Linked DNA regions of Homo sapiens: region 1 is linked to region 2. The links come from fine-mapping of genetic effects on gene expression. A gene starts in region 2. The other region holds a variant in brackets. All regions are shown on one strand. Distances are between the middles of the regions. Region 1 overlaps CDH23 (cadherin related 23). Region 2 holds the start of C10orf105 (chromosome 10 open reading frame 105).

Region 1 (5,000 bases), 30 kb after region 2:
TCCCTCTCCCGTGCCCAAGGCAGACATGGCTATCTATCTCGGCACTGTCTCACCAAGCTATATTGATCATTCAGAATCCCTCTCAACACATTCCAGGATAGTTAGGGTGACATAGCCTCCATGGGGTGAAGAGAAGCAGCAATGCAAAGCAGGGAATGCCCAGGGAATGGGCCAGGTGGCCTGTGCCGTCTATGGGCTGGGCCTCATGCTCAGCTGGGCTGTGGCTGGGCTTCAAGAGGCCTTTGTTCCCAGCATCCTGGTTAGCAACCCCAGTTCCTCTTTCGTGCATTGTGGTTCCCTGAGAAAACGTTAACCCAGCCCCCAGCACAGTCAGGCCAGCCCTGGGGAAGGCCTCATTCATGAGGCAGGACCCCAGGGGCCAAGTTGGTGCTCGGTGGTGGCAGGACCCCTGCAGCCCCCTGTCCCACTGCACACTCCCAAGTCCACCCCGCGAGGAGCACCCCCTGAAAAAGGCCATGTATCAGCCCCTCTGCCCTGGGCCACTGCATGTAGTGGGAGCTCTGGTCAGGCAGAAGTCTTTTGAAAAGCAGGTCCTGGGGCTCCTGCACCTCCACCCCAGCGCCCATCGCCACGGACTCCCCCAGGCAGGGCCAGCCTGCCCACCAGCAGTCACCAGTGGCCTCCATGGTGTGTTTTTAGGGAGTGCTGAGCAGTCCCCGCTGTGTCAGCAAAACCCTCCAAATGGTGCTTTCAATTCCATTCCTTCAGCCTCTCCCTGGGAGGGAATAAAGGCAGGAAGTCTCTATTAAACTGTGAATGTCAGGAGATAGGTAAGATGGCCCCTAATTCCTGATTGATCTCCTAACAATGAATTAGTTCTTAAAAGCATGGATTTCCCTCTCAGGGCCTCAGACTGTGCCACGAATCCAGCGCTCCAGGAGCCTCCTGCCCCAGCCCCTAGTGCTCCTCCCGCCCCCTGGAGGCGCCATGTTCTCGCACCCAGCTCTCCCATGCACCCCAGCCCACAGCCACCAGGGCTGGCATCAGAGGCACTACCATCCCGGGCAACTCAGAGGGCGGCTCCAGCAGCCTGCCCCTCCCCAGCAGCAGCAGGGAGGGACGTCCCTAGTGCGTTGTAGGCAGGGCCTGTGGCCATGGATGAAGATGGAACTGGGAGCTCAGAGTAAATTTCGCTGAAAACAGGAAACCACGAAGCCCAGATGCGTTCAGTTGTAAAAGGGTCCAGAGAAGAGAGGGCAGGGCCGCACCAGAGGAAGCTGAGGAGGAAGTGCGGTGGCTGTTCTGCTGCGGGCCGCCTCCCTCTCCACACAGCAGCAGCCAGGCCTGGGGTCTGGCAGCCAAATTCTTAGAAGTTGTCTCTGCCTCAAGGTCAGCAGCTGAGGGCTGGGGCCAGGCCAGCCTCCCCAGAGGGCAGGGCATGCTCTTCCTGAGTTGGGAGAACCGGAATCTGGGCTGTGGGCTTGTCCTTCGACTCCAGGAACAGCAGGTGTCCTGTCCCCACTCCTGCCATGCAGGCCCCCATGAATTGTGAAAAACATACCCTCTTTCCTTCTTTCTTTCTTTTTAAAATTTGTTTTGAGGCAAAGTTTTGCTCCGTCCCCAGGCTGGAGTGTAGTGGCTCGAACACAGCTCACAGCAGCCTTGAACACCTGGGCTTAAGCGGTCCTTCCACCTCAGCCCTGCAAAGTGCTGGGAGGACAGGTGTGTGCCACCATGGCCAGCCAGCACCCTCTTCCTATGGCAGCTGGCATCAAGCATTGTGGTGACCAGAGGGAACAAAAGAAGGGACCCCCCTCTGCCTAGGGACAAGGGAGAAGCCGGGGTTTGGGCATATTCTGGCCACTCGAGGTGTCAGCCCCATCTCCGGGCCTATGTTTACCCTCTCCTCAAAGCCCCTGGCCCAGCCCAGGCAGAGCAGGAGGCCCTCAGTGGACCATTCCTTTGGGCCTAACTGGGGGGCTTAGAAGCAGGGCCATGTGTCCAGGTGGGGTTCCCTGGCTGTAGCCACAGGCCCAGGGCTCACTGCTGCCAGGCAGCCTAGAGGTGCTCCCCTTTTCCATCCCCCCAACCCCCCAAGCAATTGGGCGAACATCTTCCCGCCTAGCCCCAAATCCTGGCTTTCAGCACCCAGGCCCAGCTCAGCAGAGCCAGTGTAGGCTGCTAGGAGACAAATGCCCAGGCTGGACTATGCTCTCCACAGTACCTGGGGCCCCCATCCTGCTAAACGCTACAGGGGGTCTGCCCAGCCCCACCTCACCTGTCCCCATGCTCAGGCACTGCCTTCCCTGTTTTACCCCCAGAGTGTACAGAGATGCCCCCTACTCTCCTCCCCTGCTTTAAAATCCTTCAATCACAATTCCACAGAGGACTCACCTTGCCTATGTGTATAAAAACAAAGCCAGGGCATGCCCACAAGCAGGAGATGGGAACATCACCCGCACCTGGCCGAATGGCTCTGAAGCGAAGACTCCACCAGGCCCAGATTGTATGGAGTGGAAGGTGGGGGTGGGGGAGGAGCAGCAGAGTGCAGATTTAAACTGGCTCTTACAATCCATCTCCAGGGTTTGCACCTGTTTCCCCATGTAGTTTTTAATAGCATCCCGCTTCATACTCAGAAGTGTCCCAGGGTGGACAAGACATTGTGTGGCACCCTTGCAATGGCCCGCGCTGAGCAGTGGGAGTAGGGGATGGGGAGGGCGGGGGGCAGGTGCCCCTCTCCACTCACCTTCCCAGAAGGCCCCACCCACCTCCCTCAGCACCATCTCCAGTGGGTGGGGCAACATCTGTCCTGGCCTCAGATTGCCCAAGACACCATTTGCTCACGGAGGCCACCATGCCCCAATATGTA[C/A]TTCCCGTTTCGGGACCACCAAGCTCTGGGGACTGGAATGCAGGCAGTGGAAGCCCCAGATTGACTTAACCTGTTGACAGATCTTCAGAGAAACTGCTGGTAGGAGGCAGCTGGGGAAGGTGGCGATGGCCAGTGGGCAGGCAGGCCTGGCCCCAGAGCCACTGTGGTACAAAGAGGAAGTCTGACAGAAGAGCAGCCTCGGGCAAAACGGGGGAGCCAAGGCGGCCACGGGGGAGAAGTCTCTCCACCGTGCCCTGTGTCTGGTGCCTGGGAGGGTGGCCCAGTGTCCATCTTGTCCCACTGATGCTGCCACATCCCAAGGCTCATGTCTCAGAACGAGAGCTGCTGAAGGGCTGGACGTTCTGAGACTTCTTAAGATGTAAGTCATTTGGCATCTGTAGCTGGTGAATTTCAGGTCTCTAGGGGAGAATCTCAGCACCCCAAAATCCTTGGAACAGGGGCTGAGCCGTCCAGCATCCCCATGTAGCATCCAGAGGGGTTGAGGGGCTGGGCTTCTGGGATGTCACAGTATCTGAGCCCAGAGCAGGAGGGAGGGAACCAGGGCCGAGGCCAAGGAGGCCACTCACAGAGCCAGCCCTGGCTCAAATGCACCTGCCCCAGACCCAGCCACAACAGCCCACTGTCCCCCAGCTGGGCTAGATGACCTCAAAGTTTGGAGAGTCAGGGACAGGGTCTGCAAGAAAAGGAGAAGCAAAGTGAACGGGGCCCCTCTGCCCCTCACCCTCAACCCCACCCCGTGAGGCCGTGGAACTCTTCAGGGAGGTGAATGGGGGCCCCTCTGTCCCTCACCCTCAACCCCACCCCGTGAGGCCGTGGAACTCTTCAGGGAGGTGAATGGGGGCCCCTCTGTCCCTCACCCTCAACCCCACCCCGTGAGGCCGTGGAACTCTTCAGGGAGGTGAATGGGGGCCCCTCTGTCCCTCACCCTCAACCCCACCCCGTGAGGCCGTGGAACTCTTCAGGGAGGGCAGGGAGTGAGGCCGATGCCCTGCAGGCCATGAGGTCATGACCTTACAGGTCATCGTGCTGTGAAGGTCAGGAAACACTTACCCAGGGATGGGAAGAAGACGTCTCCGGGGCCTGGAGGAGACAGGGGGGTGCTGGGCTCCGAAAGCAGATGCCGCCCAGACTCAGAAGGCTGCCGCTGGGCCACATAGGACAGGGGGTGCCTGACTTTGGCCTCGGGTATCCCCTGGGCAGGTGGTGAGGCTTCAAAGCCGGGGTTTTCAATCCCTTGAATGTTGCTGCCACAGAACCAGAATGGAAGGTCATCTGTGCTGTCCGGAGCGTGAACTCTGCCCTCCCTGCCCCCAGTTTTTCTCTCCTCCCTTTCTCTCACCTACATCCCCATCCCCAAGCCTCAGCAGCATCTCCAAGCAAGAAGGCAGGAGCCAGGCCCACAGAGCAAAGGCCATGGGCTGCACCTGCCCACCTGTCCTGAGCTGAGGGCATCAGGGCCCACCAGAACAGACCCCAGCTCCTCCCTGTGGTCTGACCATCAACCCCGGGCACAGCCAGGAAGCCAAAAATCACAGACACTTCTAGAACTTCAGCCTCAGGAATTTGGGGACAAGTTTCTCTTTGGTCAATAGAGTTGATGGCATTAGGATCGAACATCCCCAAAGCCTGTCTTGAGCTGAGGGGAGGGGTTCTCTTCTCTTCCCAGTTGGGAGTGGGATAACTTCTGAAGACCCCTGCAACTCTTAGATTCTAGATGAGTTGCAAGCAGGACTTCCTTCAACCTGTCTTGAAGATCATCCCTTTCAAACACCTAGAGGAGCTTTGTGTTTGGTGTTGCAGGTACCGGGGCAGGAACTTGGGTTCCCTGAACACACCCTCCAGGCCAGGCTGCATGGCAGCTTCCTGCCCAGAGCACACCAATACACAGTCCCCATCCCCTCTGCCCCTAGACCCAGCCCACTGCACCACTCTGGGACCCCTCAGCCTCTGCCCTTGTGGCCTGCAGCGGCCTAACAGCTTTCTCCTTGGAGTTCTCTGCGGGCAGGAGGCACAGCTCAAGGGCTGTGGCTGGGGCTGGGCCCGCTGGCCTCCTTTGCATGTCTCACTGTCTGCCCCAGACAGTGCTTCCTCCCTGTCCCCATCCTGGCCCAGGCTGACCACTGAGACCCGAAGGTGGGTGCATGACACA
Region 2 (5,000 bases):
CATGGCCTTGCCACCCCTCTGGCCCCCAGCCCTTTCGGAGCTCAGTGAGCTGCTCTGGGAACAGGTGGGAAATAAACCCACAAGGAGTTGACAAGGGGGCTGGAAACCCCCCAGGGACATCATACACCTGACAGGGCATTTCCTTTCCCACTGAAGATCATCCCATTAGACGCAGTGCAGCAGACGGTCCTTGTCGATGGAAAACCAGGCTGAGCTTTTGGCTCAATATGTCTGGGGTTGTAATAAAAATGCTCACAGATCCTGGCCAGCAGATAACACATGACCAGAGGGTACAGATGAGCAGGGCCACCTGGAGAGCACTGGCTGGGCCCTCTCAAGGAAGTGGAGGGGCCTCAGCCCAGAATGGTGCTGTCAGTGCCGGAGTGCAGGCCCAGTGTGGTCAGCTCTGTCAGTTTCCCAAGAGAAGCCAGAAATCTGGATTTTTTTAAAGGCAAACATTCTAGACGTTTAAATGTTGGCAGCTAATTCAAATTTGTTGAAGGCAAGAAAGAAGAGAGGTGGGGTGGGGGAGAACACAGCAAAAGCCAAATAAACTTGATTTCAAAATAATGTGAAATGAATTTTCAAATATTTGAAACACTACACAGGCCAAACCAAACACATAAGCAGAGGACGTCCAGCTTGCAGGTCAGCATGTGTGATATTTAAATTCTACTGACGTGGACAAGCAATCCCAGGGGGTCTGATAAAAAGTCATGATTTCCCTTTAACCTTGGGGTCTTTCCTTTTCATGAGGGTGGGGGATAGCAGATTTTCCTCCTTCCCAGCTTGCAGCTTAGATAACAGTTGAGTTTCTAGCACGGAAGCTCAGGAGGAGGAAAGATGTCAGGTCACGCTCAGAGAAACCCTGCCACAGGTAGTGGGGAGGGGAGTGGGCCACCTAGTTCCCCACCCGAGGGACTCCTGTCCCTACCCCAGGCACTCACCAGCAGCCGCAGGACCTCACTCCTGGCTCCCTGCGCCCAGCCAACTGAGGGCATGCAGAGCACCCCACCTCCCACCCATTCCCCACCACCACCCCTCCCAGCACTTCCAGGCAGAAAACGACCCCTCCCAGTGCCTGGCTGGAAAGTGTGATGCCCGTCTAGCTGCCCAGGGCCTCCGCCTTTGCGGCATCAGGCCTAGAGAGCACTCTGGCTGGGCAGCTGTGCATGGGTTGGCCTTTCCTTGAGTCTGAGCAGGGAGGAGGGATGGGGTGTGCCCACCGCTCATTCCCGTGGGGAGAAAATCAGCCATCCCTCTCTCCTACCCTGGACAATGCTTGGCCAGGAGTAAGAAAAGGGCAGTCTGAAATGGGAGATGCCTCAATCCTACTAGTTCTAATGTTATTTCAAGGCCTTCAAAGGAATCTGGAGACCCTACTGGGCTAGCAAATAGGATCCAGGCTTCAGGCCTTGGGACCTGCTTTAATTTAAAAAATAAGTGAGGCCAGGCGTGTTGGCTCTCACCTGTAATCCCAGCACTTTGGGAGGCCAAGGCAGGAGGATCACTTGAGCCCAGGAGTTTGAGAACAGCCTGGGCAACATAGTGAGTCTTCATTTCTGAAAGAAAAAAAAAAAAGGTTTTTTAATTAGCCAGGTGTGGTAGTATGTGCCTGTGGCCCCAGCTACTCAGGAGGCTGAGGCAGAAGGATCATTTGAGCCCAAAAGTTTGAGGCTACAGCGAGCTAGAATCATGCCACTGCGCTACAGCCTGAGCGACAGAGCAACACTCTGTCTCAAAAAAATAAAAAATAAAAAAAAAATAAGTGGAGTTGTAATTAGCATCTGAGTAGTTCCTGTGGCAACGAGAGATTCCTAAGTGCTTGAAAACAACACAACACCCTTCCTGGAGCACGAGGCAAGTCCAGCTGCCAGGCCCCTTGACACCCGGCTACTGACCAACCAGCAAAGGCCAGCTAGTACTGGGAGAGGATGCCTTGCCCGGACCAAGGCCAGGAATCATCTGGAGGGCAGTTGAAGCCACTCCCTTCCCACTGGGGCCAGGGTGCACCAGCGGGCCCTGCTCTGGACATATCTCTGCAAGCTCAGTCTAGGACCCTCCTCTTCCCTTGGAGTTCCACAGAGCAGGACCTGCTGTGGGCAGAGAAGACTGCTGTGTGGCCTCGGGCTAGTCCCTACCCCTTACTGGGCCTTGTTTCCCCTCTCTACAGAACCAGAGGACTGCCTAGGTCTGAGCATACCCTCACATTCTCCCAGGAGTCCCCAGCAAGGGTCTCCACCACACTTCCCTCTCCAAGCCTTCTCCTGCAGTCCCCCAAGCACTGACCTCAGAGCCAGACCCCAGCCGTCCGGAGCTCCGTGGAGAGGTCTTCTCAGCTGTGGAAGGGAGGCCCAAGGAGCCCTGGGCAGTGCCTGTGACCCCAGCCCTGCCAGGCTCTGCTGTGCCCTGCAGCCCTCGGTCAGCCTGGCCAGCAGAGTGGCCTCCCCGTCACTCCCCAGCTGGACCTGGCTTTGTCTAGAAGAGTTTGGGCCCTGCCTTGGGGGAGGGGATAGCTAAGGGAGTAGGGATGGCAACTGGGTTGGGAAGAGGGAGAGGGGAGCTGTCCAGAGACTCTGGGATGCCCCCTGGCCTTCCCACCGCCTCTCTCCAGCCTGTCTCCTTGGAGCCCTCTCAGGGGTGGAAGACTCTGGGGAGACGCAGGGGGAGGGTTTTACTGCCTCTGCGGCCCCATGGCGCTCACCTTCCCCTGTCGGAAGTTTGAATGGTATGGTCGGCGGCAGCCAGAGGTTCGCTATTCAGTGCCTGCCAGCCACCAGGTTACCCTGGAGAGGGGCTACAAGCCATGGCAGGAGGGGAGCAGGGAGAGTGCTGGTCCCTGGCAGCCCCTGAGGCCCCTCCTGCAGCGTCCCTGGGCCCCATTCCTTCCAGGCTTTTCCCTCAGCTTGTAGAAAAGCACCTTCCCTTTGAAGGTGTCTGGCTACAGAAGCGAGGGGTGAGGGGCATCTTCAAAGGTCAGGGGGATCCCAGGGCAGAAAGCATAGGACTGACGGACCTCCAAGGCCATGCTCCCCACAGTGCGGGTGGGCCACGGGAGACCTCCACTGGAGGCTCTTTCCAAAACACACACACACACACACACACACACACACTTCCCTCCCCCAGCCTTCTTTCTCCCCAGAAGCCAGAGCTTCCCTGACAACCAGCTGCCTGCTTAGGAGCCCAAGTCTTTGGCAGCTTCCCCACCAGGGACCTCCAAGCTCCCAGAAATGCAACTCAAGACAGGAGTCATGGCCCTGTCCAAGACCTGAGCCTCAGACCCATTCCCTTTTTTGGAGCCCCAGTTTCTGGTTTTTAGCTGTTCCCTCCTGCCCTTGCCCATAAAAAGAGGCACTGTCTGCCAACCCCAAGATGGACAAGAGATTTCCTATGGACTGTTAAAGCTGGAGAGGTCCTCAGGGGTCATCTAACTCCTCTTCTGAGAGAAAAGAGCCCCCGTCTTCTCTCAGATGACCAAACTGAGGCCCAGAGAGGTGTGACCTGCCCAGGGGCACCCAGCAAGTGAGTGGTGGGGGACTTGGTGTTTCCCCTGTGCTGGGTGGGCAGGGGCAGGCAGTAGGCATCCAGGGTAGGCAAAGCATCCGGCCCAAAGGTGTTTTCAATGCCCAGAGTCCCCATTGGGATTCCTGCACCTTCCATCACAGCATTCACTGCCTTCATTTTCCTTAACTTCCTCTCCTGAAACCAACTGAACACTTCATCTGTGGCCCCCATTCCTCCTGAGATGACAGAAGACAAAGCTTCCAGGGTGGTGCAGGCTGCTGGAGCAGGGAGGCATCAAGGAAATCTCACCATGGATAGGCATGCAAGGGCATGCTCTGGGCAACGTGGCTCTCTTCACCATCCTGAGCCCTTCCAGATCTGGACAATTGAAGCACCCTGTTACATCCCTCCACCTGCCAGCTCCTAAGGTTTCTCAGGGAATGGAGAGAGAAAGAACTGCACGGCAAGGGGCAATCCAGCCATCCCCAGCTCTGGCATAAATCCAGAGGGCTCTCTGGAGAAGGTGGCATCACTCATGTTGACCTTCACCACACATCCCCATGCTAGGCACCAGCCAAGACGCTTTGCAAGATGACTTCTGATCTTCCCCTCAACCCTGCAAGGCTGGTCATCATTGTGCCCAGTCTAGAGATGAGAAAACTGAGGCTCAAGGGGGCTAAAGTACTTATCCATAGTGCCATAGAGAGTAAGTGACAAAGCCTAAATTCATGCTTGGGTGTGCCTGACCCAGGGCCCTTGTTCTTTTTGCTCCAGTGTACTCGTCCTCCTCCCCACCATCAACATGCTCATCAGAATCCTTAGACACACTTACCGCAGTGCCCGGATGTGCATCGAGGCCAGCGCCTGCTACAGGCTCCTCGCTCTGCCTTCATACCACCATGTCTATACTCCCTGTCCTGTGGAGGTTCCAGGGCATCAGTGCTGCTGATTGAGGCTGTCATTCCACTCTTCCAACCACAGCCCTCTGCTGTCCCTGCATGAGCCCTTCACTCCAGACTGGGGTCCTAGTTCCTTCCTTAGCCTCCCCAGCTGCCTCTACTTCAGCTAACACTGTTTCCCAGCACAAATGTTCTTCCCAACCTTCTCTGCTAAGCCAGGTTTCCTCCATCCTTCCAAACCCAGCTCCCTCCTTTGGAAACCTTCAGCCAATCCCACCTTCACTGCTTTCTTGATCTTTGCTAGCAGGAACCCATCCCCATCTTCTCTGCAGTTTTGTCCAGTGAGCAACGATAGGAAAGCCTACATTAGGGCTTCGGGTGGCAAGAAAGAAAATCCATTCTATATTATCTTAGGCAGGGCCAGACATGGTGGCTCATGCCTGTAATCCCACCACTTTGGGAAGCCAAGGCGGGAGGATTGCTTGAGCTCAGGAGTTCGAGACCAGCCTGGGCAATATAGCAAGACCCTGTCTCTACAAAAAAAATAATAATAATCTAGGCAGAAGGAGAAGTGTACTGTAGCAATACTGGGATACC

What was found. PIP is the estimated chance that this variant, and not a neighbour inherited with it, causes the effect.
Region 1: its variant is fine-mapped to the expression of C10orf105 in whole blood (TOPMed, PIP above 0.99).

Annotation. Positions count from the first base shown.
Region 1 is chr10:71,747,767-71,752,766 of GRCh38, forward strand. The region is part of intron 38 of CDH23 (cadherin related 23); the gene reads left to right. It overlaps VSIR (V-set immunoregulatory receptor), which reads right to left. Exons shown (of 7, transcript NM_022153.2): 6 at 3,902-4,095; 7 at 1-3,524. The coding sequence ends at 3,487. Among named protein-coding and RNA genes, the nearest start is that of VSIR, 23 kb to the right of the region's middle. RefSeq lists enhancers at 232-441, 827-876, 1,077-1,206. The variant C/A (reference allele first, on the strand shown) is at 2,831.
Region 2 is chr10:71,717,338-71,722,337 of GRCh38, forward strand. C10orf105 (chromosome 10 open reading frame 105) reads right to left here and starts at 2,441. Exons shown (of 2, transcript NM_001164375.3): 1 at 2,290-2,441. The region is part of intron 28 of CDH23 (cadherin related 23); the gene reads left to right. RefSeq lists an enhancer at 1,830-2,578.